4 linked regions of the Homo sapiens genome follow. The protein of the gene in region 1 interacts with the protein of each later gene in a pairwise test. Each region holds a gene or a part of one and is shown in the gene's direction. Other genes may lie near its edges.

The links.
Region 2: the proteins of CYP4F2 (region 1) and SLC2A13 interact in binary tests that used the Homo sapiens proteins (3 or more experiments, as listed by UniProt).
Region 3: the proteins of CYP4F2 (region 1) and TM4SF19 interact in binary tests that used the Homo sapiens proteins (3 or more experiments, as listed by UniProt).
Region 4: the proteins of CYP4F2 (region 1) and SDHAF2 interact in binary tests that used the Homo sapiens proteins (3 or more experiments, as listed by UniProt).

The regions. Positions count from the first base shown.
Region 1 is NC_000019.10:15,895,074-15,902,031, reverse strand, and holds the start of CYP4F2 (cytochrome P450 4F2 precursor), read left to right. Parts: upstream 1-3,957; 5' UTR 3,958-4,006; intron 4,007-4,419; 5' UTR 4,420-4,420; coding exon 4,421-4,618; intron 4,619-6,381; coding exon 6,382-6,526; intron 6,527-6,958. UniProt on the Homo sapiens protein: A cytochrome P450 monooxygenase involved in the metabolism of various endogenous substrates, including fatty acids, eicosanoids and vitamins.
Region 2 is NC_000012.12:40,103,069-40,110,435, reverse strand, and holds the start of SLC2A13 (proton myo-inositol cotransporter), read left to right. Parts: upstream 1-4,354; 5' UTR 4,355-4,627; coding exon 4,628-5,183; intron 5,184-7,367. UniProt on the Homo sapiens protein: H(+)-myo-inositol cotransporter. Can also transport related stereoisomers.
Region 3 is NC_000003.12:196,335,371-196,343,240, reverse strand, and holds the start of TM4SF19 (transmembrane 4 L6 family member 19), read left to right. Parts: upstream 1-4,852; 5' UTR 4,853-4,977; intron 4,978-7,870. UniProt on the Homo sapiens protein: Negatively regulates vacuolar (H+)-ATPase (V-ATPase) activity by interacting with members of V-ATPase V0 complex and hence inhibiting V1-V0 complex assembly. Required for multinucleation during osteoclast differentiation.
Region 4 is NC_000011.10:61,440,124-61,447,146, forward strand, and holds the end of SDHAF2 (succinate dehydrogenase assembly factor 2, mitochondrial), read left to right. Parts: intron 1-5,817; coding exon 5,818-5,948; 3' UTR 5,949-6,610; downstream 6,611-7,023.

The DNA.
Region 1 (6,958 bases):
ATTGATAGAGAAATATAGGACCCATATGCATTATTTAAATACCTATATAATAATCATAAAACATGTTTATGCCATAAGTGCAAGGATTGAAGGACAATATGAAAAGTGTAGTTAGGTGAATCTTACAAATTATTTAAAGAGACTGTTTAAGGTTAGTCAAGCAGAGTGACATACAGAAAAGAAGACTACTATTAAATCATTGGCAATATCCCTCTGTATTAGGCCACTCTTGTGTTGCTATAAAGAAATACCTGGCTGGGTATGGTGGCTCATGCCTGTAATCCCAGCATTTTAGGATGCCAAGGTGGGAGAATTGCTTGAGGCTTGGAGTTTAAGACCAAAAAAAAAAAAAAAAAAAAAGGAAATACCTGAGACTGGGTAATTTGTAAACAAAAGAGGTTTAACTGGATCACGGTTCTGCAGGCTGTACAGGAAGCATAGTGGCATCTGGTTCTGGGGAGGCCTCAGGGAGCTTTTACTCGTGTTAGAAGGCAAAGTGGGAGCGGGCACATCACTTGGCAAAAGCAGGAGCAAGAGAGAGAGGGTCAGGTGCTACACAGTTTTAAATAACCATATCTTGCAAGAACTCACTAACACGAAGACCACATCAAGCCATGAGGGATCCGCCCCCATGATCCAAACACCTCCCACCAGGCGCCACATCCAGCATTGGGGATTACAATTCAACATGAGATTTGGGAAGGGACACAGACAGACCCAAACCATATCAACCCCTAATGCCAGCAGAACCACTGAGTAGCTTTAGGATCTTCAGAAAGGATTTTAAAGCTCGAATAGTCCCAGCACTGTAATAATTACAAGAGAAAATGTAACTACAATGTAGCATCTACACAATAATTGTGATTCTCTTCTCCGTTCTTGTTCAATCCAATGTTTAATATAAAAATTCAAGTGAAGGTAAATAAAAGCATTGGGGAATGACCTTGCCATGTGGTATTAAGAAGAAGATTCTCAAGCACAACTGCCTAAGTTGCAATTACCACAGCTACATCTAGAAGGAAGATGTGAGAGTTTTCATTCCACATTAACTAGAAACCTAGCATGAGGCAGATGGCTGGAAGCAGTCGAGGGAGTGTCCAAGACCTTACACAGAAAATCATGTTCAGAGAGGAAGCTTGTTGCTCATTCCTTTTTTGTGCCCAGCTGCCTGGGTTCCCTTCTCCACCATTTTATTTGGTAGTAAGCTATCTAGAGAACTTGCTCCCTACGCTGAGCCAATAAGCGAAATGTGTGAGCTTTGAAGGATACAGTTTCATTTCGAGGAATGGAGAATATCTGTGCAAAGTTGGGGCAGTTCAGAGCAGAGTGAGCTGCAGACTGTTCTGCAGGTATGGGGCTGGAAGTCTTCACACGACCTCATAGTCCTGGCACCCAAACTTACTCAGACAATGGTGTGTCCGGAATTGGTGGGTTCTTGGTCTCACTGACTTCAAGAATGAAGCCGCGGACCCTCGCGGTGAGTGTTACAGCTCTTAAGGTGGCGCGTCTGGAGTTTGTTCTTTCTGATGTTCAGATGTGTTCGGAGTTTCTTCCTTCTGGTGGGTTCGTGGTCTCGCTGGCTCAGGAGTGAAGCTGCAGACTTTCGCGGTGAGTGTTACAGCTCATAAAAGCAGTGTGAACCTAAAGAGTGAGCAGCAGCAAGATTTATTGCAAAGAGTGAAAGAACAAAGCTTCCACAATGTGGAAGGGGGCCTGAGCGGGTTGCCACTGCTGGCTCGGGCAGCCTGCTTTTATTCTCTTATCTGGCCCTACCTATGTCCTGCTGATTGGTAGAGCCAAGTGGTCTGTTTTGACAGGGCGCTGATTGGTGCGTTCACAATCCTTGAGCTAGACACAAAGGTTCTCCACGTCCCCACCAGACTCAGAAGCCCAGCTGGCTTCACCCAGTGGATCCCGCACCGGGGCTGCAGGTGGAGCTGCCTGCCAGTCCCGCGCCGTGCGCTCGCACTCCTCAGCCCTTGGGTGGTCGATGGGACTGGGCGCCCTGGAGCAGGGGGCGGCGCTCATCGGGGAGGCTCGGGCTGCACAGGAACCTACGGAGGCCGGGGGCTCAGGCATGGCGGGCTGCAGGTCCTGGGCCCTGCCCCGCGGGAAGGCAGCTAAGGCCCGGCGAGAAATCGAGCGCAGCGCCGGTGGGCTGGCACTGCTGGGGGACCGAGTACACCTTCCCGAGCAGCCGCTGGCCCGGGTGCTAAGCCCCTCATTGCCCGGGGCTGGCAGGGCCGGCCGGCTGCTCCGAGTGCGGGGCCTGCCAAGCCTACGCCCACCTGGAACTCTAGCTGGCCCGCAAGTGCCGCGCGCAGCCCCGGTTCGTACTCGCGCCTCTCCCTCCATACCTCCCTGCAAGCTGAGGGAGCCGGCTCTGGCCTTGGCCAGCCTAGAAAGGGGCTCCTACACCTATAAGTGAGAATATGCGGTGTTTGGTTTTTTGTTCTTGCGATAGTTTACTGAGAATGATGATTTCCAATTTCATCCATGTCCCTACACAATGAGAACATATGGACACAGGAAGGGGAACATCACACTCTGGGGACTGTTGTGGGGTGGGGGGAGGGGGGAGGGATAGCATTGGGAGATATACCTAATGCTAGATGACGAGTTAGTGGGTGCAGCGCACCAGCATGGCACATGTATACATATGTAACTAACCTGCACATTGTGCGCATGTACCCTAAAACTTAAAGTATAATAATAATAATAAAAAAATCCAAAAAAAAAGAAAAGAAGAGAAAAGAAAGGGGCTCCCACAGTGCAGCGGTGGGCTGAAGGGCTCCTCAAGTGCCGCCAAAGTGGGAGCCCAGGCAGAGGAGGCGCCGAGAGCGAGTGAGGGCTGTGAGGACTGCCAGCATGCTGTCACCTCTCAGTGGGAGCAGGTGTGACAAGAGTTGGGCAAATCAGACCTTTAATCCACCCTGATAGGCTGGAGTGTGGGCTTATGGCATTTCTCCTTTGACCCAATTAACCTCCACTCCCAATGTATCTCTGTGCAGAAGGCTCAGCTAGGTGTATCAGCCATTGTAAATCCTCAACATAAATTATAATTTAACCTAGAATACAGAGACTAGGTAGCAGGAGGAGAGGAAATGTAGAGATACTAATCTCTTCTCCCTTATCAGAAAGAAACCTAGCATAAGAAATTTCACGCTTAATGGGCCAAAGAGTAAATCAGAAAACTCCATGGGTGATGGTATGCTCATGGTGGTGGTGGTGGTGATGGGGAATTATTTGCCCTCCTGTGACCTCCCTTGGATTAATTTCTCCCCAGGACAATGGGAAAAATCATTTAATCCTTGGAGTTTTTTTTTTTTTTTTTTTTTTTTTTTTTTTTTTTTTTGCTTGAGAGTGACTCTGATCCTGTTTCTGATGGTCATGTTCCTCAGCATCATACTGAGTAAGTCACTGGCCTTGTAGCATCTGGAGTGATTGGAGTGATCCAAGATCCCTAGTTCCCATGTCACAAATGAGGATCCCACATATCTGGGACAGAGATGGAACATTATTTCTGGGTGTGTCTATCTAATCTATTCATCCTATCTATCTAATTTCTCATCTATATATATATTTGCCTACCCATCCATCCATCAATCCATCTTAGCTGTACGTTTATCCATTCCATCTATTTATCCTATTATCTATGTATCTATCTATCATCTATTAATAGCTATCTATCCATCTGTCTAATATATCCATTATCTATATCTACTTTATCTATCTACCTAATGTATCCATCCTATCTACTCTATCTATCTGTGCATCTACCCATCCATCTGGACCCTGAGCTGATTCCTCTGCACCCAGCTGGCCTGACGCCAGGTGTTGATTGGCTGCCCAGGCTCAGGAGACACATCCAGGCTGCAGGGATTGGTTGGCCCAGCCCAACCCAGCCAGCCCTCCCACAGCCTTTGCTATATCAAGGGCCAGGGTCAAAGGCCTCCCAGCAGACAGAGAGAGGAGGTTGTCTGGGACAGACTGCTCCTGACAGAAGGTGCCAGGCTGGGGGTGGCAGGCCTGGGGGGGGTCCTGGCCTGGGATGGAGAGGGGCACTGCCCAAGGCCCACGCAGCTCCTGGGTGCTGGCCTGGAGGATGGGTGGTTTCCGAGTAACTGAAACCAAGCCCCTGGCAACCTCACAGTGATTCAGGCTGGGCCTTTCTGGACTTTAATCAGTCTCTCTCTCTCTTTCCCATTCTAAGTGCTTACTAGGGAACTGGAGGCCACTTGGCTGCTGGTTTTGGTTGGGCCTTTCTGGACTTTACCTCTCAGCCCCTTTTTACCCATCCCTGAGCCCTCCCTGCTCTACCTCCGGCACTGCCCGTCCCTGCCTCTCCACTGTCCCTGGAGGTCCCTGGGCCGTTCTCTGGGCCTCAGGATCTCACCGTCCATCCCGTCTGCCCTGCAGGATGTCCCAGCTGAGCCTGTCCTGGCTGGGCCTCTGGCCAGTGGCAGCATCCCCTTGGCTGCTCCTCCTGCTGGTCGGGGCCTCCTGGCTCCTGGCCCATGTCCTGGCCTGGACCTACGCCTTCTATGACAACTGCCGCCGCCTTCGGTGTTTCCCACAACCCCCAAGACGGAACTGGTTTTGGGGACACCAGGGCATGGTGAGTGTGGCAGCAGGATGGGTCTAGGTCTCAGGATGGATGGACTTCCTGAGGGGTACGAGGCTTAGGGAGTGGGGGTGAAGGGGTGGGCTGGGATCTGGGGTGGCAGAGAAGCAGAGGAGGCATCTTACTCATTCCTCTGCTTATTCATTTCTGTGAGGTGCCTACGCAAGCCCTTCTCACTTCCTTGTCCTCCCACTCCAGGCCTGCATTGAATCCTTTTCCTGCCTGTCTTCCCACATTAATGCACCTCTGCGGGGCTCCTGGGCAGAGGGTTGGCTGCACAGAGAGGCGAGTCCCTGGCATTCCCACATTCTCCATTGCTGGACTCGAGGCTTCTTATGCCCACTGTCCAGGGTCCTCTCCTTGCCTGGACTATTTCCTGTTATGAGGGTACAGCTGGGCCAGAGGAGAGGCATGGGCCGTCTCCCACTTCCACTACACCCGAAGGCACCTTTCTCTTATATTCTTCTTCTTATCTCCCTCTTATCAATGAGACCTGTTGCCAAACCCAGATAAAAGTTGGCCACTCACTTCACCTTTCAGAAGCTTTCCTTGGCCTTTCTCCTCCCCGTGACCTTGCCCTCTGACTTAGACCGCTCTCCTCTTTGGGGAATGTGGTCTTAGTCTGCTCATTTGCAAATGGCAGGATTGATGGATGTGTCCACAGATAAAGTGGAAGGGTGCACAGGACACACTAGCACAGAGCCTGCTGCAGAAGCTGCTCCCAGGTGGGAGCCATTGTCCTGATGGACAGTTAGAGTCACCTCTGCTCCACTAGTGGCTGCTGAAAAGGGAAGGTCTCCCATGTGCAGAACCTTCTCCATGGGAGGAACTGGAGCCTCTGTGGATCAGCCAGGACATGAAGGCATGTGGGGACCAGCCTTAGGGACATGTCCTGAGGCGATACTGCTCCCCACAAATCTCCCCTGTGAGGACCTCCCCATATAGCTGCCTCTGGGCTGAAATGACTCCCAGAAAAAGAAAATCCTTCCTCTCAAGATAACTGGGCCTCTGTGAGTGGACAGTGCGTCTTCTCCCTCTGCCCTGGGATGCACCCTTGGGACTTGGAGATGGACCCAAGAGAGATAGAGCAGGAGGAATGTGGATAGATAGATAGATAGAGCAGGAGGAATGTAGATAGATAGATAGATAGATAGATAGATAGATAGATAGATAGCTAATAGGATAGATAGATAGATGCACAGATAGGATGGATAGATGGATGGATGGATGGATGGACAGGCACGTAGGTAGATAGATAATAGAATAGATGGATGCATGGACACATGGATGCACAGATAGCATGGATGGATGGATGGATGGATGGATGGATGGATGGATAGATAGATAGACAAATAATAGGACATATGGATGCATGGACACACGGATGCACAGATAGGATGGATGGATGGATGGATGATGGATGGATGGGTAGATAGAGTAGATAGGATGGATAGATTATGTAGACAGATGGAGTAGATATATATGATGGATAGATTAGACGGATAGATGGCTATTAATAGATGATAAGCAGACAGACAGATGAATATATGGATGGATGAAAGCACAGATAAAATGGATTGATGGATAGATGGGTAGGCAGATAGATATATAGATAGAAAAATTAGATAGATAGGATGAATAGATTAGACACACCCAGAAATAATGTTTGACCAACTACCTGGGCATCCCTTAGCCCAGTCAAGTAGACACCTAGAATTAACTATCACAGAAGGTAATGACCCCTGCCTTGCTTGCAGGTCAACCCCACAGAGGAGGGCATGAGAGTTCTGACTCAGCTGGTGGCCACCTACCCCCAGGGCTTTAAGGTCTGGATGGGACCCATCTCCCCCCTCCTCAGTTTGTGCCACCCCGACATCATCCGGTCTGTCATCAACGCCTCAGGTACCATCTGGAACAGCTGGTGGGGCAGTGCATTTGAGGCCTGCACTTCCGCTATCCCCAAGCTCCTGTGTGGGCCCTGCAGTACTCTGGCCTCTCCTTTCCTTCCCTCTCAGCTATCTTCATCTTTCTTTCATGTATTCATCAATTTCCATCTCAGCGTCTCCTCTCTCTATTGCCATCTACCCCCTGTTCTGGTGTTCTGGGCTGCCCTGGAACCCTAAGAGACCTCAACCCAAGGCCCAGTCCTGGAGGAACCCCCAACTTTAAGGAGATGGACCTGGATAGAGATATCCCCAACTTCATGGGATCAGGAAAGGGCCAGAGGGAGATGGATCACAGCCCAGGGAAGAACAAGGTCTCTGCTGGGGCAGGCTGGAAGGCTTCCTAGAGGAGGAGTTACTGGAGCTGTGTCTGGAACAATGAGTAGGAATG
Region 2 (7,367 bases), on another chromosome or scaffold:
TACATACAGAGATGAGGAATAATCAAAATGATGGGATTCTGGCATTACTAGGCTTCATGAAGGTAATACCATCAAAATAACATTTTGATTCTTCACAGTCACCGTTCATTGACTTTCTCTTTTTTTTTTTTTTTTTTTTTTGAGACAGAGTCTCTCTGTTGCCCAGGCTGTAGTGCAGTGGTGCAATCTTGACTCACTGCAACCTCTGCCTCCTGGGTTCAAATGATTCTCCTACCTCAGTCTCCCAAGTAGCTGGGATTACAGGGATGCGCCACCACACCCAGCTAATTTTTATATTTTTAGTAGAGATGGGGTTTCACAATGTTGGCCAGGCTGGTCTTGAACTCCTCACCTCAGATGATCCACTTACCTCGGTCTCCCAAAGTGCTGGTATTACAAGCATGAGCCACTGCATCTGGTCTTTCATTGACTTTCTATAATAAAATTCAAAGATTTTCCATGAGTTTTCATTCTCTTTGATCTCTGTGTAATATAATTGATTCTCTTAGCCAGTTCTTCCTTCTTGAAATGGTTTACTTGGCTTTTATGCCATGTTAACTTACTAATTACTTATGGCAACTCAAATATATTGGTTTTATTGCCAGCATTTATTCGCCTGACTTCTGGCAAAATAGCACATCACATTTCTTATGGGAAAACCTCCTATAGTCTAAGCCCATGTAATTTACCTTCACTCACAGCTCATGATGTGGGTGTTGATTGGCCCCAGCCTGATCACCAAACTGTAATCTCCCAGCTGCAGTAACTGGGGCAGGAATGGTACCACAACTGACAAATCCAATTACATACAATATAAGTTTGCTAGGGCTTTGGAGAAAGAGGCTCTTTTTCTGTCCTTTCAGACATGAGTGGAAAAGGATATTATATTAGGCTGTTCTTGCTATAAAGAAATATCTGAGACTGGATATTTTATAAGAAAAGAGGTTTAATTGGCTCACAGTTCTGCAGGCTGTACAGAAAGCACAGCACTGGCATCTGTTTCTGGAAAGATCTCAGGAAGCTTACAATCATGGCGGAAGGCAAAGGGGGAGCAGGCACATCACACGGTGAAAGCAAAGGACCAGATCTCCTGTGAACTCAAAAGGAGCTCATTTATCGCCAAGGAGATGACCCAAGCCATTCATTTGGGATCCACCCCCAGGATCTAAACTAGTCTTGTCAGGCCTCAACTTCAACACGGGGGATTACATCTCAACATGCGATTTTGATGGGGACAAATATCCAAACTATCTCAGGTATAGGGCTTGGAGTTTGCTACAGCCCTTTGAGCACCACATAAAATTTAAGAATGGAGCCTAAGGAGTAGGAAGCAGAGTGGAGAAATGGACGTCTGTGTGACATCCTGGTGTTTTTAGTCCTTTATCCAACTGCACTTGACGCCAACTTATTAGAGAGTTTTCAGAGACAATAGACAATAAGTACTCCCTCTTTCCCATTATTTTGGCTTAAACCAGTTTGATCTCGATTCTCTATCTCTTGCATCCAAAACAATTCAAAAACAAACAAATAAAACAACAATATATATATATGTATTTTACCATGTACATACATATGCATATAAATTCATAGAGAAAGTTCTGGAAAGATATATTTCAAAGTGGTAGAGGTGGTTATCTCTGGCCAAAGGGGTCTGTTATGGTGGGAAAGACGATTGAGAAGGGGCTTTTCGCCTTTCTTTATTGTTAGACTGCTTTGGAACATGTTACTGGAGGTTGTAAAGCAAATATCCTCAAAGCTGGAACTATAGAACTCACTGCAAACCAATAATGACTCTTGTAATTAAATTTGCCCTGCAATAGCAATTAATTATATTTCAAAAATACCCTTTAACACTCTCGTCAATGAGTAGTTGCTGCACCATTATCTGCTCTTCAAATGAGAGAAAAAAAAAAAAAGCAAAGCACAAGCTAATCTTGTGGTTTGTGGAAAGTTTTACGGTAAAACAATGGTGGTGTTGACATTCATCTCTTTTGATTCTCAGCCCATGGGTTTTCCAGTTCATCATAAACCGCAGCTGGGGCCGACTTTGGGGAACTCCATATTAGACTCACGCGCTGATGCTAAGTTGAACTGGACTCCCTCTCAAGGCTGAGACGAATTCTGTTTAACTCTCCGAAGCTTTTTTTTTTTTTTTGAGATGGAATCTCGCTCTGTCGCCCAGGCTGGATTGCAGTGGCACGATCTCGGCTCACTGCAACCTCCGCCTCCTGGGTTCAAGCAATACTCTGCCTCAGCCTCCCGAGTTGCTGGGATTACAGACGCGTGCCGCCATGCCCGGCTAACTTTTGTATTTTTAGTAGAGACAGGGTTTCACCACGTTGGCCAGGCTGGTCTTGAACTCCTGACCCCGTAATCCACCCGCCTCAGCCTCCCAAAGTGCTGTGATTACAGGCGTGAGCCACCGCGCCCGGCCTCCGATGCCTTTTTTTTCACGTCACATTTCTTTTAAAATGTAACCTGACCGCAGATACATAACTGTCCTAATACGGAACAGAATTTTTAAAGTAGTTTCTTGTTCTATGACCCCAAAGCTGAATTTCAAGCAAGGAATGCTCAGGAACCAAGATGTTCACTGCACCAGCTGAGACAAAAAGTAGTTTATTTTCATCTCAGCAAGAGGGAACTGTCAAAGAACCAGATGCTTCTCATCTGCGGAGCCCTTCTCTTCAGAAGCCGTGGGAATTGGCTCACCACCAGGGGGCGCAGTTTTACTATACCGTAGCATGCCGCGGAAAAGGCGCGCTCTCACCTGCAATATTGTCCGAGGTCTGAATATTAAAGAGTTCATTGCTGCAGATCTAAAGGCTCTCTCTGTTTAACTGATGCCTGGGAATGACGGTAGAGCCTTGCTTTAAAGCCAGACGATAACATTTAAATAGTTAAGCCGTCTGGCTTCATTAGTTTATTTTTCCTTGTTGCTGGCAAGGAAAGTACTATATTGTAGAGATAATCGTGACTGATAATCAAAACGAAAGCAGTTTTGACAAATTCTAATATAAGTTTTTACTGAAACAGGAATGACAAAATCCTTTTGTCTGAAAGGAAAAAAGTTATAGCTGCATGAAAAATAGGCCCCAGGCTAAGAAAGCTTTTGCTCAAATAAGGGAAATAAAAGAGCAGTGGAATTGTAGGAATAGAATCATATGATGCTTGACTTTTTGCCCTCAGCCTGAAGAATGAAAGCAAATTAGAGGCACAAAACATCTTTAGCAGTCCCAGCTGCTAGGAAGGCTGAGGCAGGAGAATCGCTTGAACCTGGGAGGCGGAGGCTGCAGTGTGCCGAGATAGCGCCACTGCACTCCAGCCTGGGCGACAGAGCGAGAATCTGTCTCAAAAACAAAACAAAACAAAACAAACTATCTTTAGCCCCTGATGCGCAACTGTATATTTTAAAAACATTTAAATTAAAGGGGGAAACAAACCCCAAATGAACCAACAACTGTTAATTCACTCAACAGTTTAAAAAATTGGTTGCAAATAACGTTATCTTTGCTTTGTTTCAAGTAAATGAGGCTGTTAAAACAGTGCCTCATGGAGGGCAACAGTGGGGATTCTCAGGAGAGAAGCTATCCTACCTTTTGGTTAGCATGTTGGGGCGGGGAAATGGAGACTGCCTGCCGAATCACAAATCAGGGTCTTGAGTTTTCTTTCTATTTCTGGGAATTACCCGTTACATGAGTGGAATGCATATATGTGAATTTTCTTTTACAGGTCGGGGATCCATGGAAGGAGGGTTTGGGATTCACCACAGAGATATGTTCTCTGTCCTCAAAGAATCAAATGTACCATTCCTTTAAAATAAGCATAAATTGAGGAGGGACTGGCGATGAGAGTGGAAACTAGCTATAGAAATGGGAGCATGCAGCCCTGAATTGCTCCAGAACAAACACATTTAATGCCAGGGAAGTAGACCACGCTGGGTAATGTCACAATACTATAAAAGGAAGGGTACTTGCTAGGTCCTATTCTAGGATATTTTTTCCAGCCCTCTCTCTAGGCTGCTGGAAGGACAGTGAGGCTGGTTTAGGTGCTCTCTCCCTCCTCTCCAAACACGGCAAACATTCTGGGTGGCTTCCCGTCTGGAAGCCTGTTGCCTGATGGCATCGCCACATTGGCTTGCTCCACCGCTGCAGCTCGGAAGGCAGGGTTAATTCCATACGGTTGCCAGAGCCCTAAATGAGGGAGCCTAGGTCAGAGGTCGCACCCACCGGGAGGGCGGGGTTTAGGGGTCCGGGGCGGGCTGAGCCTGGCCCCGCCCAAGGAGGGGGCGGGACGTTTCCCGGGCCCCGCCCCGCCGGCCCGGGGTTGCACGTGACCCGCGGTCCCGCCTCCCGCCCGCTCCGCAGCGCCAGCTCGGCAGGCGCGGGGCGTGAGTGTGGAGTGAGACCCGCCGGGCTCCAACTCCGCAGCGTCGGAGCGCGGCGGGCAGCAACTTTCTCCCCGGAGCGGCCGTGGCGGCGGCTGCTGCCGTGGCAGCCGGAGCGGAAGCCGGGAGGAAGAAAGCGGCGGCAGCGGCGGTTGCTCCCGCCGGCTCGGGCTGTCTAGCTCGCCGAGACTGCCGGCCCGCGGAGCCGCGTCCCCCCGGGCAGCCCCGGGCCCCTGCCCTATGTCCCGCAAGGCAAGCGAGAATGTGGAGTACACGCTGCGGAGCCTGAGCAGCCTGATGGGCGAGCGGCGCAGGAAGCAGCCGGAGCCGGACGCGGCGAGCGCGGCCGGGGAGTGCAGCCTCCTGGCTGCCGCCGAATCGAGCACCAGCCTGCAGAGCGCGGGCGCGGGCGGCGGCGGCGTCGGGGACCTGGAGCGCGCGGCGCGGCGGCAGTTCCAGCAGGACGAGACCCCCGCCTTCGTGTACGTGGTGGCCGTCTTCTCCGCGCTGGGCGGCTTCCTGTTTGGCTATGACACCGGGGTGGTGTCAGGGGCCATGCTGCTGCTCAAGCGGCAGCTCAGTCTGGACGCGCTGTGGCAGGAGCTGCTGGTGTCCAGCACGGTGGGGGCGGCTGCCGTCTCGGCGCTGGCCGGAGGCGCCCTCAACGGCGTCTTCGGCCGCCGCGCTGCCATCCTCCTGGCCAGTGCCCTCTTCACCGCCGGCTCCGCGGTGCTGGCTGCGGCCAACAACAAGGAGACACTGCTCGCCGGCCGCCTGGTCGTGGGACTCGGCATCGGTGAGTTCGGGCTCCGTGAAGGGCGCCCGGGATCCCATTGTCACCGCCCTTGACCCTGGGTGTTGCGTGCCTCTTGCCCATCGGGGTCCCCGTCTGGTCTCCCAGGGTCAGAGAATCCTCCACTTCTCTGGCCTCCAGAGCCCATCTGTTTGTTGGTCCAGCCTCCAAGGCTCTCCCGGGAGGTGGGAGGGTCGGGGGGGAGGGGGTGTCACTCTAGTCTCCCTCGAGCGCACGTGGAATCTTTGATAGGCCACGGACCAGTCAGTCCAAGTGGTTGTTGCCTCTCAGCACTTCCAGAAACCTAGCTGAGCACCAGCTCTTTCCTTGATCCAGCCTAACCTGATGCTGCTTCTTGAGCTTACGAGGGTCTCTGCTTTCCTGCACTGTCCCACCTTGCCTCTCCACTGCTAGCCCCTTTCGTTTTCTGGGGCTCCCAGCCTGGAACCTAGACCATCGTCAAGTTACAGTGAGATAATATTTAGAGTTAAGTAATTCTGGACTCTGAAAGGTTTATTAGCGACCCCTGCCCTCTTTGCTTATCTAGCATTTGTCTTTAGATGGCATCTCCTTTTGCTTTTATGCTTTTTCTATTGCCTTTCAGCTTTCATTCTTTTCCCAAGTAAATTCCATTCTCCTCTGTTTTTCCAACTTTTTCATTTGAATCCTTTTTTATCCATTCTCCTCTTTGTTTTTCCTCTCCTGCTTTCCAGTTGGGAACCAAATTATCTATTAAAGGTCATATTCACTTCCTTAATTCATTTAGGAGCTACTCCCCCTGTGGATAAATGCCCCGCAAGATAAATGTTTGGAATTTACTTCAAAAATGAAGGCATTAAGGTTCTCCTGGCGTTGAATTTTTTTCACCCTGGTTGCTGAGCAGGGGAGGTACAATTGGCAAGTTTTTGGCAGAGGGAAGCTATTTGGAATGTGCTCTGTATTATTAGAAAGCACTTTTGAGGGAAAGTGGGGGGCTGTGACTTAAATCTCACTAGTAATTTTTCTAAGACACACCGCTGATGCTTTTTTAATGTTTCGTTTCATAATTCAGTTTTTTGTTTCCCTTAGGGTGCTGTTGAAGTATTTCTTCCCTATGGCTGGGGCTTGATGAAAGCGCTTTAAACCTGGGGCTGCTGCTGATCTGTGTATTCACCACTTGTTTGATGTTTGTGCTTTTCACCCTTTCTCTGTGGGTTCTGAAGGGAAGCAAAGGCCATATATTCAACTCCACATGCGGGAACCATGAGCCTAAAACCCAGCTCACTGCACTTTATATTCAAAGTTTGTCAGTAGTGACCTTCCTTTTGCTGTTTATTGTACTGTTAATTAGCAAAGGTAGGGCAAAGCTCTCCGTAACATATTAAGTTGGCACAAAAATATCCAAAGTGACCAAAAAATCCAGCTGAAATGAAACCTATTTGTGTGGAAACTACTTGGGCCTTCAGGACCCTTCAACAAATAACCTGCTGTTTAAGTGACCACGATTCTTTTCTCAGCATTGTCTGCTTGGGACATCTGGACCTTTTTTGTTGCTTCTGACATAGAAATAACATCATTTTAGGTAGCAAGAATTGTTCTGTCAACCTCAATCTTTTCTGTAATTTTGAAATTGAATCATGCTTTGCAGAGCTGTCTAAATGAAGCTTCCTAGTGTTTTGCTATGGCAGGTATTGGTTAAAATCTTGGGTATTATGTTTACTCTTTTTATCTGACCTGCGAATTGAGCCCTGTTCTGTGTAAGGTCCCCTTCCAGATGTTGTGAGCTGAATAGTGAGGAGAATGTATTATACTTTAGTAAATGTAGCAAGCTGGGGCAAAAGCAACGTAGAACTTGCTAAGCTTTATAAGATAGGTTATCAGAGATGGCTGATGAATTCAGAGGGGGTACAGTTATCTCCAACAGAGGGAAGCCAGAAGCTCTTACCAATGGAAATGGTATGTTGACATGTCAGTATTTTAACAGAAACGAGGAAAGGACGTTCTAAGCAAGGGGCAAAATGGGTAAAGGAAGGAAAGCATAGGGCATACTTGGGGAATAGGTGGAAGCAGCAATAGAGGACAAAGCAGGAGATCAGATTGGAAGTGTTGGTGTGCAAGAGCTGTGGAGGCCTCTCTGTCTTGCAGCCTCATTCTGTGGTCTCTGGGCTGGTTGGTTCAATAGAGAAGCCCAGTTTAGATATGTTCTCC
Region 3 (7,870 bases), on another chromosome or scaffold:
ATTTGCTCCTCCCTAGGAGCATCACCGACAAAGTAACAGCAAGTAGCTCCATCTCCAGTAGAGCCACACTCCGCGGTTATTAACACGTCTCAAAGAGGTGAAGCTTCAGTGCTTTCATGGCAGCGACCGTGCCTCTGTTGCCCTAGGAGGCTCGCCACATGGAAATGAAGAGATAGTCCCAACGCTAGCCTTACGAGACCCGTTTATCTCAAGTACATGATTTCTTAAAGAAGTGTCTTGTTCAGCCGGGCGCGGCGGCTCACGCCTGTAATCCCAGCACTTTGGGAGGCCGAGGCGGGCGGATCACGAGGTCAGGAGATCGAGAACATCCTGGCCAACACGGTGAAACCCCGTCTTTACTAAAAATACAAAAATTAGCCGGTTGTGGTGGCGGGCGCTGTAGTCCCAGCTACTCGGGAGGCTGAGGCAGGAGAATGGCGTGAACCCGGGAGGTGGAGCTTGCAGTGAGCCGAGATCGCGCCACTGCACTCCAGCCTGGGCGACAGAGCGAGACTCCGTCTCAAAAAAAAAAAAAAAAGAAAGAAGTGTCTTGTCCATAAGATAATCATTGAATTAATCATCACAAGTTTACCCGAAGGAGCAAAAACCCACAGCTGCCATCACCAGCCCCACACTAAGTTTGACACTTTAAGGGATTAAAAACAAATTCCAGCACTTTCCTTTGTCCCACAAGCAACATTTTAATGATATCTACATAAGCCATTGGGTTGGACATGGAGATATCATCTAAAAATCTGAGTGCTAGGCCAGGCGTGGTGGCTCACGCCTGTAATCCTAGCACTTTGGGAGGCCGAGGAAGGCGGAACACAAGGTCAGGAGTTCGAGAGCAGCCTGGCCAACATAGTGAAACCCTGTCTCTACTAAAAATTAGAAAATTAAAAAATTAAATTAGCTGGGTGTGGCAGTGTGAGCCTGTAATCCCAGCTACTGGGGAGGCTGAGGCAGGAGAATCGAGTGAATCCAGGAGGCAGAGGTTTCAGTGAGCCAAGACTGTGCCATTGCACTCCAGCCCGGGTGACAGTACGAGACCCCATATCGAGAGAAAAAAAAAATCTGAGTGATATACGGCAATCAGCCATTCAGTTATTCTGATTGCCTAAATATGAGATGTTCTAACAGACACTGCATGCGAAATCTCTTTTGCTGGCCAGGTGCAGTGGATCACGCCTGTAATCCCAGCACTTTGGTAGGCCAAGGCGGGTGGATCACTTGAGGTCAGGAGTTCGAGACCAGCCTGGCCAACATGGCAAAACCCCGTCTCTACTAAAAATACAAAAATTAGCCAGGCATGGTGGTGGGCACCTGTAATCCCAGCTACTCAGGAGGCTGAGGCAGGAGAATCGCTTAGAACCTGGGGGTGGAGGTTGCAGTGAGCCAAGATTGCGCCACTGCACTCCAGCCTGGGCAATAGAGCAAGATTCCGTCTCAAAAAAAAAAAAAAAAAAAAAAAAACAGAAATTCTTATATAGAAAGCAGCTCATAAACAGTTTAGAAGACTTAAACTGTGCTTGCTTTGACAACACATATACTAAAATTGGGACGATGCAGATTAGTTTAACGTGGTTCCCGTGCAAGGATGACACGAAAATTAATGAAGAGTTCCAATTTTATTTTTAAAAATGGAACTGTGATAGCCAGTCATAACGATCCCTTCTCATGTATGTGCATCAGGGGTTTCCTCAGTAATCGTTTGTTTTCATCACTGGAAGTAAAATCTCTGTGCAGAGACTGTGTTGCATGAATTATGCATTGCACGAATTAATTCATTCATCAAGTCATTCTTGAGCTTCTACCATGTTCCAAGCTCTGTGTGAGGCTCAGAATATACAGAGCAGAGTAAGAGTTAGTCCCTGCCTGCAAGGACCTCACAGCGGTGGAGTAAGAAGTGAGTCACACTCCAGTGGGAAGTGGGCAAAGATTTCCTAAGCAGACACAAAAATATTGACCATAAAAGAAGATGCATAAATGGAGCTTAATTAAAATCAGTACTTTCTCTTCAAGTAAGCCCAGGCGGGGTGGCTCACGCCTGTAATCCCAGCACTTTGGGAAGCCGAGGAGGGTGGATCACGAGGTCAGGAAATTGAGACCATCCTGGCCAACATGGTGAAACCCTGTCTCTACTAAAAATACGAAAATTAGCTGAGCGTGGCAGCCCATGCCTGTAATCCCAGCTATTCGGCAGGCTAAGGCAGGAGAATCTCTTGAACCCGGGAGATGGCGGTTGCAGTGAGCCAAGATCGTCGTGGCACTGCACTCTAGCCTGGCAACAGAGCTAGACTCTGTCTCAAAAAATAAAATAAAATAAAATAAAATAAAATAAAATAAAATAAAATAAAATAAAATAAAATAAAATAAAATAAAATAAGACATAATAAAGAGAGTAAAAAGTCAAACCACAAACTGGGGGAAAACATTCACAATAAATTTACCTGATAAAGGTCTCATACCTGGAATTATAATGAACCAGAAAACAGAAAAAAAGATAACCCATAACAAATGGGCAAAAACCATGGACGGGAACTTCTCAAAGAGGATCTTCAAATGGCTAATACGTATATGAAAAGGTGCTTACTCATCAAGGAGATGCAAATTCAAACACAAGGAGATTACACTAAACACCCACCACAATGCCTAAAATTAAAAATGTTTGTGAGAATGTGTAGAAACTGGAACTGTCACACACTGCTGGTGGGTGTGTAAATTAGGACTACTTTGGGAATCTGTTTGGCAATATCTGCCAAAATTAAATATTCACCTGCCCTATGATAGCAATCCTACTCCTAAGAATATTCCCTGGAAAAATTAGTGCATAGTTCCTTCAAAAGACATGCAGAAGAATATTCATAGCAGCATTATTTATAACAGGCAAAAGTTGAAAATATAAATGTCCATTAAGAGTAGAAAAAGTTGTAATATCCAATGTAATAATACTCAGCAATAAAAGAAAAATAAATTACATGATGGATGAATCTTACATATAGAATATTGAGTGAAGAAAGCCACACACAAAAGCCATACTGGGCTGGGCGCGGTGGCGCACGCTTGTAATCCAGCACTTTGGGAGGCCGAGGCAGGAGGATCACTTGAGCCTAGGAGTTCGAGACCAGACTGGGCTACATGGTGAGACCCCATCTGTACACGAAATTAAAAAATCAGCTGGCGTGGTGGCGCTTGCCTGTGGTCCCAGCTACTCAGGAGGCTGAAGTGTGAGGATCACTTGAGCCTATGAAGGCAAAAGGCTGCAGTGAGTCATGATTGTGCCACTGCACTCCCGCCTGGATGACACAGCAAAACCGCCTTTTTTTTTTTTTTTTTTAAAGAAAACTGTTTGATTCCATTTATGTGAAATTCAAGAACAACTAAAACCTAATCAATTATTATAAGAGCCAAAATGAAAGTTAACACTGGGGACAAGGGATACGAATGACAGGCGACACAATGAAACCTCTGGGGATTTGGAATGTCCTGTATCTTGATTTCTGTGCTGGTTCACCAGGGTATACATGTAAAAATTCATCAGACTTTAACATTAAGATTTGTGCACTTTAGGCTGGGCGTGCTGGCTCACACCTGTAATCCCAGCACTTTGGGAGGCGGAGGCGGGTGGATCGCCTGAGGTCGGGAGTTTGAGACCAGCCTGACCAACATGGAGAAACCGTGTTTCTACTAAAAATACAAAATTAGCCAGGCGTGGTGGCACGTGCCTGTAATCCCAGCTACTTGGGAGGCTGAGGCAGGAGAATTGCTTGAAGCCAGGAGGCAGAGGTTGCAGTGAGCTGAGATTGTGCCACTGCACTCCAGCCTGGGAACAAGAGTGAAACTCCGTCTCAAAAAAAAAAAAAAGAAAAGAAAAGATTTGTGCACTTTACTGTATATAATATCTAGATGTTTAAAATGCAATGGGAGCATAGAGAAAGAAGTACCTAACTCGGAGTAAAGAAATCCTGGCAGACTTCACTGGGAATGTTTGAACTGAATCTTGAATAGGAGCTTGTCCATAGAGGGTCACGGATCTCCCACACAGAGAGCACCACAAAATCCTCAGCAATTTGGTGAGAGTATGGTACAAGATGATAGTGGCCTGGGGCTTGAACAAGAGGCTGAGTGCGGTGGCTCACACCTGTAATCTCAGCACTTTGGGAGGCTGAGGCGAACACCTGAGGTCAGCAGTTCGAGACCAGCCTGGCCAAAATGGCAAAACCCCGTCTCTATTAAAAATACAAACATTAGCCGGGCATGGTGGCAGGTGCCTGTAATCCCAGCTACTCAGGAGGCTGAGGTGGGAGGATTGCTTGAGTGTGGGAGGCGGAGGTTGCAGTGAGCCGAGATCATGCCACTGCACTCCAGCCTGGGTGACAGAGTGAGACCCTGTCTCAAAAAAAAAAAAAAAAAAAAGTTAGACGTCTAGTACAGGAACCATGCAACACATCGAGTCAGCCAAGGGCAAGGTAAGGAGAGTGATGAGGAAAAAGGGGTGGCTGCCCTGCTCGGTGCTGTTCTGTCAAAGAGCCGAAATTCTTCGCGGGGTGGCAGATGAGGACAGGAACAGCTGGGGTGTGGCAAGTGTTGCTGCCTGGGGAGAGCGGAGGGTGAGGTGTTTCTCACGGGTGCATCCAGTGACTCATCAGGACAGCGGAGCTCATGAGGCCATGTCTCCCGTTTCCTGCCTTAGAATCACATGAAAATGAGCAGAGGGTGGGTCATCAGGACAGGGCTCTCCGGGGAGCGGAAGCGCCTTCAATGCAGGCCTGTGGGCAGGGGCGTGGGGGCGCGCACACACACACGCCTGGGTGACCTCTACGTATATACAGAGCCTCCCTGGCCCTCCTGGAAAGAGTCCTGGAAAGACAACCTTCAGGTCCAGCCCTGGAGCTGGAGGAGTGGAGCCCCACTCTGAAGACGCAGCCTTTCTCCAGGTTCTGTCTCTCCCATTCTGATTCTTGACACCAGATGCAGGTAAGCAGAGATGAAAGGGTGAGGTGACGGCCAGGGAACAGCCTAGCCTCACAGATGAGAGTGCACGCTTCCACTCCAGTGAGCCTGGCTCTGCAGCTTGGCGTCTGTGTGACTTTGCGCCATTCACTTACCTTCTCCTGTTGCCTCAGTCTGTCAACTTCTGGCCTTTGCACCTAGAATACTCTTCCTGCCTAGTATCTCATCGTCCATCAAGTTTGGGCATGGGCAGCCCTTCCTCCGGGAAGCTTCGTTTTGCTTCTGCCAGATAGGATTAGGTTCCTCCATGTGCTTCCATGACACCTTAAGTTGGATGCCCCTGCCTGGTACTTACTGTTACCAGCTGTGAATCCAGCGAGTCTGCAGCAAACTCAATCCTTGCCTTCTCGGGGGAGAGATTCGGCTGAGGGGCAGAAGTGGGTTTAAGGCAGAGGGAGAGGCTGAAGCAAGTTTGAGAGCAGGAGTGAAGGTTTATTAAAAAGTTTTTGAGCAGCAATGAAAGGAAGTAAAGTACACTTGGAAAAGGGCCAAGTGCGTGACTTGAGACACCCAAATGTGCTGTTAGACCCTTGACTTGGCGCCTGCCTGCCGCACAGGCACTTGGGAGGGGCCGCATGCGCAGTGTGTTTACTGAAGTCGTGCGCATGCTCACTTGAGGCGTTTTTCCCTTACCCGCGGAGCAGCACTAGAGGAAGGTCACACACACCAGCTAAACTCCACCATTTTGCTTCTTAGTGTAGATGCTTGAGCCCACTCGCCCAATTCCTGAGCTCTTACCAGGAAGCTGCTGATCACCAAGTTCAGGTATTTTCTATCTATTGGGAGACTGTCTTTCCCAACGCTGGCTGTGACCAATATTATTTTAGAAAGACAGTGTAACAACCGCCTGGCCATCACCTGATAGTCACCTGACATTACTGGGGTAGAGGCCCTCTCCCGCCCTGCTCATGTCTGCTCTATTTCTTACCACACTTGATTAGAATTACTTTTTGGCCAGCCTGACCCACATGGCGAAAACCCATCACTACTAAAAATACAAAATTAGCCGGGCGTGGTGCATGCCTGTAATTCCAGCTACTTGGGAGGCTGAGGCAGGAGAATAACTTGAACCCGAGAGGCGGAGGTTGCAGTGAGCCAAGAGCATGCCGCTGCACTCCAGCCTGGGCAACAAGAGCGAGACTGTGTCTCAAAAAAAAAAAAAAAAAAAAAAAAAAAGAATTGCTTTTTGCGTCAGCAGTGTCCCCACTAGACTTTAAGCTCCTCAAGGAAAGGGATTACATCTTTTTCATCGTTATATCCCTAGCCCCCCAAGTGTCTGTCAGGTAGTGATCACTTAATAAATATCCGACTGAAGGAAGAATGAAAGAAAAGCCTTGCTGGGTGGCGAGGGAGAGACACAGATGTAGAGAATGTGCGGTCTCTTCCTCCATGGAATTGAGCCGATCACTTCTGTTGTTGCCTGGACATCTAGCCGATGACGTGCTCACCTAGCTAGGACCTCAGGACAGAACAAGGAACTCCCCAGCAGCCTGGTTTTAAGGTTTTACCTTCTGATCTTGCTTGTCTCTTCAGATATCAAATTAGGCCACCTCTTTGCTAACCTCCTGGTTCACATTTTTGGAAGGGTTTCTCCAAATGTTATAATTTCTAGGGGAATAAAGTCAGGAGGAGGGGTGAAATTCACACGAAGCCGCAGTGCGGCAAGTGCTTTTAGTGTTTGATTGGCGGACAGCCAGGGCTCTGAATTCCACTCATCCAAAAGCCATGCTCCAGCTGGTAGTTTTCCCTCGCTGTCCATCATTTTTAGTTTCCCCTTTAAGAGTTTTCTGGGCTGGGCGCTGTGGCTCACACCTGTAATCCCAGCACTTTAGGAGGCCAAGGTAGGTGAATCACCTGAGGTCAGGAGTTCAAGACCAGCGTGGCTAACCTGGAGAAACCCCATCTCTACTAAAAATACAAAATTAGCCGGGCGTAGTGGTGTGCACCTGTAATCCCAGCTACTCAGGAGTCTGAGGCAGGAGAATCACTTGAACCCAGGAGGCGGAGGTAGCAGTGAGCTGAGGCCGCGCCATTGCACTCCAGCCTGGGCAACAAGAGTGAAACTCTGTCTCAAAAAAAAAACAAAAAACAAAACAAAAACAAAAACAAAAAAAACAGACTTTTCTGATGGGAACGTTTTCTGTAGAAGAGATCGTCAGGGGGGTTGATGTTGCTGAAGTGTGTAGACGGTGCTTTCTCAGAGGTGCCGTGATTTGAAGGCACTAAATGCATTCCTGCACAACGGCGTCTCCTGGCCCCATGATCTAGAGCACCCGCTTGAAAGGCCAACCACACACCCATCTTTCCTTGGGCCCCGGTCAGACATCTGGGTGGGCAGTGGATTAAAGTTGTGAGTTGTTAACACCCTGGGTGGTTAATTTGCCTCAACACAGAATTACACACTGCAAGCCCCGCACTGCACGATGGGACCGTCTCGGAGGGAGGATGTGCAGACATGCGGGGACATCGCAGCAGTGTGGGCAGGCTGTGAGGGGGCCGTTCTCCACAGGCGCCCTGCTCCCAGGAGCAGGACAGGTTCCTTGCTGTGACTGAGGAGTCCGGTGGCCTGTCAGCCAGAGGGTTGATGGGGGAAGAGACACCCCATCCCTCCCGATTCCTGACCCCACCCTGCCCCAGGACCCTTGGGCCCCTGGGGTAGGAGTCACTGTTGCTTCATATCCTACGCCCACCCTCTCAGGGCACCCCACCTCTCTCCTACCCCCACCCTCCCAGGGCACCCCTCCCCTCTCCTACCCCCACCCTCCCAGGGCACCCCTCCCCTCTCCTACCCACACCCTCCCAGGGCACCCCTCCCCTCTCCTACCCACACCCTCCCAGTGCACCCCTCCCCTCTCCT
Region 4 (7,023 bases), on another chromosome or scaffold:
GGCCAGCATGACAATACCCCGTCTCTACTAAAAATGCAAAAGTTAGCCGCGTGTGGTGGTGCGCCCAGCTACTCTGGAGGCTGAGGCAAGAGAATCTCTTGAATCCGGGAGGCAGAGGTTGCAGTGAGCCAAGATCACGCCACTGTGCTCCAACCTGGGCGACAGAGTGAGACTCTTTCAAAAAAATAAATAGGGCTGGGCGCGGTGAGTCAACACCTGTAATCCCAGCACTTTGGGAGGTCGAGGCGGGTGGATCACCTGAGGCCAGGAGATCGAGACCTTCCTGGCTAACACGGTGAAACCCCGTTTCTACTAAAACGACAAAAAATTAGCTGGGTGTGGTGGCGGGTTCCTGTAGTCCCAGCTACTCGGGAGGCTGAGTCAGGAGAATCGCTTAAACCTGGGAGGTGGAGGTTGCAGTGAGCCAAGATTGGGCCACTGCACTCCAGCCTGGGTGACAGAATGAGACTCTGTCTCAAAAATAAATAAATAAAACTTTTAGTACATTTTTTCTGTAATAGGTAAATATAGATAGTAAGCTTTTTCTATAATAGGTAAATATAGATAGTAAATACAGATAATGAATATTTTAGGCTTTGCAGGCCATACAGCCTCTCATAACTACTCACCTCGACCTTTGTAGCATGAAAGCAGCCACAGATAGCAGGTAAACGAATATGATTGTGTTTCAATAAAACCTTATTTGTGGACACTGAAAATAGAATTTCATACTGTTTTCACCAGTTATGAAATATACATTTGATTTTTTTTCCCCAACCATTAAAAAATCATTCTTGGCTGGATGCAGTGGCTCACACCTATAATTCCAGCGCTTTGGAAGGCTGAGGCAAAGGATCTCTTGAGGCCAGGAGTTTGGGACCAGCCTGGGCAACATAGACCCCCTATCTCCAAAAATAAAAATAAGTTAGCTGGGCTTGGTGGTGCACACTGTATTCCCAGCTACTTGGGAGGATCACTTGAGCCCAGGAGTTCAGAGACTGCAATGACCTATGATCACGCCACTGCATTTCAGCCTGGGCAAGAGTGAGACCCAATCTCTAAAAATCATTCTTAGCTCACAGGGCATAGTTTGCCAGCTTCTGTGCTAAGCAAAAGAGGTCAAACTCAACCAGACGCGGTGGCTCACGCCTGTAATCCCAGCACTTTGGTAGGCTGAGGTGGGCGGATCACGAGGTCAGGAGATTGAGACCATCTTGGCCAACATGGTGAAACCCCGTCTCTACTAAAAATACTGGGCGTGGTGGTGGGCGCCTGTAATCTCAGCTACTTGGGAGGCTGGGGCAGGAGAATCTCTTAAACCAGGGAGTCGGAGGTTGCAGTAAGCCGAGATCATGCCACTATACTCCAGCCTGGGTGACAGAGCGAGGCTCCATCTCAAAAAAAAAAAAAAAAAGATCAGACTCAACAAGTACATACTCAGTACATAATTGGACTCCAAGAATGTGATTCTGTTTACATGATAATCTGAAAAAGGCAAAACTTACAGGGACAAATCAGTGATTGCCAGGGTGTTGGATGTGAAGGGAGGGGTTGGTGTTCCACATCTTTACCCACACTTTGTATTATCAGGGTTTTGTTTTTGTTTTTAGCCATTCCAAGAAGTATATATTGGTACATCACTATAGTTTTAATTGGCATGTCCCTAATGACTAATAATATTGAGGATCTTTTCAAGGGCTTATCAGCCCTTTATGTATATTTGGTGACATGTCTCTTCAAATTCCGCCCCCCACCACTCCTCCCTTTTTTTTTTTTTTGAGACAGGATCTCACTCTGTCACCCAGGCTGGAGTGCAGTGGTGCAGTCATGGCTCAGTGCAGGCTCCACCTCCTGGGCTCAAGCGATCCTCCCACCTCAGCCTCCAGAATAGCTGGGACTACAGGCCGGCAGCACCATGCCCAGCTAATTTTTGTTGTTGTTGTATTTTTTGTGGAGATGAGGTTTTGCCATGTTGCCCAGACTGGTCTCAAACTCCTGAGCTCAAGCAATCCACCTGCCTCGGCCTCCCAAAGTGCTGGGATTACAGGTGTGAGCCACCATGCCTGGCCAGATTTTCCATTTTGGAAGATACTTTCACTGGATATAGAATTCGAGGGTCACAATGTTTTTTCTTCTGTTAAATAGAAACACTTCTACCGCCAGCTCTTAGTGTACAAGATCGGGTAGTCAGGAGTTCCGCTGGGTTTGGACTTTGGTTTTGCTCTGGTTACCTTCAGTGCATCACCAGCTTCATATTCCCTCCGGTGTTACCATGTGCTGTTTTCTCATTTCCATAGTTTGTGACGAGGTCTGCTGTATCTTTGTTCCTTTTTATGTGTCTTCTCTTTCTGAATCTTTTCAATATTTTGTCTTTGGTTTCTAGCCGTTTCAATATTATATACATAGGTATTTATTTGATATTTATATATGTAGGCATTTGATATTTATCGTGCTTTTGGGTTCTCTGGGCATCTTGGATCTGTGTTTTCATATCTTTTATTATTGTTGAAAAATTCTCAGCTGTTACCCCTTCAGCTATTTCTTCTGCTTTGTTTTCTCCCTCTTTTCCTTCTAGGATTCTAGTTATACTTAGTTAAATGGTTTAATATTGTCCAACAGCTGTTGTGGGGGTTTTGTTTTTTGTTTTTTTGAGACAGTCTTGCTGTGTCACCAAGGCTGGAGAGCAGTGGCGCAATCTTGGCTCACTACAACCTCTGCCTCCTGGGTCCAAGCGATTCTTGTGCCTCAGGCTCCTGAGCAACTGGGACCACAGGCACGTGCCGCCATGCCTGGCTAATTTTTTTGTATTTTTCACAGAGACGGGTTTCACCATGTTGGCCAGGCTGGGCTTGAACTCCTGGCCTCAAGTGATCCGTCTGCCTCAGTCCCTTAAAGTGTTGGGATTACAGGCGTGAGCCACTGTGCTCAGTCTGTCCAACAGCTTTTGGGTTCTCTGTTTTGTGTTTTTTATTCTTTTTTCTCTTTGTGCATCAGTTTGGGTTATTTGTATTAGATAATATCTATTGACCTGTCTTCCACTAATTCTTTCCTTGATGATGTCAAATCTCATGATGGGCCTGTTGAAACCATTCTGCATATCTGCTACTGTATTTGTTTTTAGCATTTCCATTTGACTTTTGGAGTTTCCAACTCTGCTAGAATTTCTCATCTGTTCATACATTTTGTCTGCTTTTTCCACTGGCGCCTTTAATATTAGTCATAGTCATTTTAAATTCCCTGTCTGATAGTTCTAACATCTGGGTCATCCCTCAGTCTGCTTCTGTTGATTTCTTTGTCCCTTGACAGTGTGTTGTTTTTTTCTTCTTTTGTGTATATGTCTCGTAATTTTCTCATAATTGTATTTATGCTTACAATTGGGGATGCTTCTTCTACTTTACTGTTAGTGTGGGGATCAAGTCAGTGAGTTGGGAGGTAAGCTCAGCTTGGGTTGTTTTTGCTTTGGTTACCTTCATTGCATTACTAGTGTCTAGCGTTAACGTGTGCTTAGAGTGGAAGCTGGCTCTGTCGCCCAGGCTGGAGTGCAGTGGCACCCTCTCGGCTCACTGCAACCTCCACCTCCCAGGTTCAAGCGATTCTCCTGCCTCAGCCTCCTGAGTAGCTGAGACTACAATCACGTGCCACCACACCTGGCTAATTTTTTTTTTTTTTGAGACGGAGTCTCACTCTGTCACCCAGACTGGAGGCAGTGGCGCGATATCGGCTCACTGCAAGCTCTGCCTCTTGGGTTCATGCCATTCTGCTGCCTCAGCATCCCGAGTAGCTGGGACTACAGGCGCCCGCCACCACGCCCGGCTAATTTTTTGTATTTTCAGTAGAGACGGGGTTTCACCGTTTTAGCCAGGATGGTCTTGATCTCCTGACCTCGTGATCCACCCGCCTCGGCCTCCCAAAGTGCTGGGATTACAGGCGTGAGCCACTGTGCCCAGCCTGTGTCTGTGGTTTTATACACTCATGCTAGCCCACACTTGGCTTTTAACAATTCATTGCAAATTTTAGTGGCACAGGCCTGCAGTCCCAGCTGCCCTGGAGGCTGAGGCAGCAGGATCGCTGGAGCCCAGGAATTCTTGGCTGCAGTGCTCTATACCAATCAGGTGTCTGCTGTAAAGTTGGCAACAGTATGTTGACCTCTCAGAAGCAGGGGACCACCCGATTCCCTAAGGAGGGGTGAACCAGCCCACGCTGGAAATGGGACAGGTCGAAATTCCTGTGCTGATCAGTGGTGGAATTGCACCTCTGACTAGCCACTGCAGTCTCCCCTGGGCAACATAAGGCTGGCCCTGTCTGTATTAATTTAAAACAAATTTTTTTGGCTGGGCGTGGTGGCTCACGCCTGTGATCCCAGCACTTTGGGAGGCAGAGGTGGGCGGATCACAAGGTCAGGAGACCAAGACCAGCCTGACTAACACAGTGAAACCCCATCTCTACTAAAAAAAAAAAAATTACAAAAAATCAGCCGAGCGTGGTGGCGGGCGCCTGTGGTGCCAGCTACTCGGGAGGCTGAGGCGGGAGAATGGCGTGAGCCCAGGAGGTGGAGCTTGCAGTGAGTCCAGATCGCACCACTGCACTCCAGCCTGGGCGACAGAGTGAGACTCGTCTCAAACAAAAAAAAAAATTTTTTTAGCTGAATTCCTTTTACCCATTTGTATGATGTCCAGTGTCTCTTCTTCCTGTGCCTGCCACAGGTGAGCAAGTGCATGGCTCTCGTTTCTCCTTTGAAGGGCCTCTTTTTCCTTAGGTTTCGTCTGTTGGGTTGCCTCGTGACCTCAGTTCTCTGATATCTTTGAGAAAAGTCATAATATTTGTAATTTATCTGGCTTTTTCTTGTTGTTACAGTGAGTGCAATATTCTTTCCAACTTTCTACTTTCTTGGGGGAAGCCAAAACCTCTTTGATCTTATGTTGATTGTCACATGAAAACAGAGCCCTCACTAGATGCCAGGCCCTGTGCTGAGTAAGGGAGAATCTGACTTGGTTTTGAGGAATTCTCTCTCCTGGCGTCGTACCTAGTGTTGGTGGAAGGGTAATTCTGGAGCACATTGCCTCGGCTTTGGCAGTGGGAGGCTTTGCTTGTAATTGGCATCTTAAATAAGTGTCCCAAGGGTGTAGAGAAAGGTCAGGGGGAGCAGCACACTGCCAGACCCACTGCCGTAGACTGAGGCTGGCCTTCTCATTCTTCTGACTCAGTGCCTATGTTGCCCGTTCACTGAAATCTGGTTCTTTAGGCTCATGACAGTTCTGTGTGCCTCCAATATCCTTCCAATAAATTCCTTTTTGCTTAAGTTTACTAGAGTTATTAGTTTCTGTCTCTTAAAACTGAGGACCTCTAACTGATAGACAAAGGAGAGAGCTTTTGTTTCAAGAGATATATACATTGCAAGGGAAAACACAATGTCTGGGGAACAATGGAATTGCCAAATGCAAAGCAAAATAGTACAGCCAAGATTGTGCGGGCCAGGGGTCAGCAAACTTGTTCATAAAGGACCAGATAGTAAGTATTTTACTTGTAGTCATATGGTCTCTGTTGCAAGTACCCAATTCTGCTGTCATAACACAAAAGGAGCATGGGTAATATGTAAACCATTGGGAGCAGCTGTTCCAATAAAACGACTTGCAAATATAGGCTCACACAGTTTGCCACCCCCTGGTATAGGCTAACATCGTGTATATTTAGAAGAAGGATGGAGACAGTCTATATATCCATCTGTGGTTCTTGGCCAGTGTTTCGAGTTTTAAGATTCTCATACCTGAGCATTGACTGACTATGGCATAATTTTTTCTGCCCACTCTTCTCTTGCAGAAGCTAAACCAGCCCCAGAAATATTTGAAAATGAAGTCATGGCCCTGCTGAGAGACTTTGCTAAAAACAAAAACAAAGAGCAGAGACTGCGTGCCCCAGATCTTGAGTACCTCTTTGAAAAGCCACGTTGAGCTGTGCTCCACGGCCTGGCATGGGGGTTCAGTCTGTGGATGGTAACTACTTATGATGGACGTTAGCCTTGCTTCCGGCTTCTTAGATGCCCAGCTGCCCTACCCCAGACCACTGGTCCTGCCTCAAGTGATGGACATAACCCTCTCCTAGGACATACATGTAAATGCACAATGTGACTCATTCTCATACTTTTTTGTTCAGCTCTGAGCCTCAAAAGTGATTTGTCAGCAGCGCTGGCATGCAGGCTTTGCCTGGCTGCTATCTCTAGAGGCAAGTCTGCCACGAGAGGGCACTGCAGGCGAAGCAGTTGTGCTTGCTCATTGCCTCAGCCCAAGTGTACTCAAAGAAAAGAGGCAGCCAGCTGTGCGTGCTGTATGGAAAGCCTCCCGCCCTCCCTGCAGCTCCCCGCCCTCAGTGGCCCAGGGCTTTGTTGAAGTGGAACTCCCCACTTCCAACCTGGTATGGCTCCTTCTGCGAAGGGAAGCTGATCCCAGCCTCCTGAGCTGAATCCTTCAAAGGCACAGCAGGCAGAATGAGGGCCACAGGCAGGAGTGGTGTGGGCACACTGCTTAGGAGTCAACATCTTCATCATTGGGCTTTCTTTAAAACGTGCACTTTGTAATTTGAAAGAGAATTATTAAAGCATACTGAAAAAAGGAAATTTACAATTTCCCAGCCCTCACAATTAATTTTAATTTTGTCTATTTTCATATAACCCATAGTCATGTTTATAGAGTTTTACAAGTTCACAATTACAGGTTTTATTTTCATGTAGCACTATAGAAAACTTTCCCCCTCATTCCTACAGTCTTCACAATTAGTTGACTAAATAATAATACATAAGAAATAATATATTAGAATGAATTAGTTAGAAGTGTTTTTAAAAGCTCTAGGGCTGTGTGACTTCTGTGTTGCTAGTGGTGCCCTCCCTGGAGGGGTTTTGCCCTCAGAGCTGTAATCTAGGCAGTAGAATCAGTCACCCAGACTGGACCAGGTGCATCTAAAGGTGTTGACTAGAAGAAGGTCGGCCAGATTTGATGAGCAGGTGGTTGGTGATTATAGGAGCCGCACACA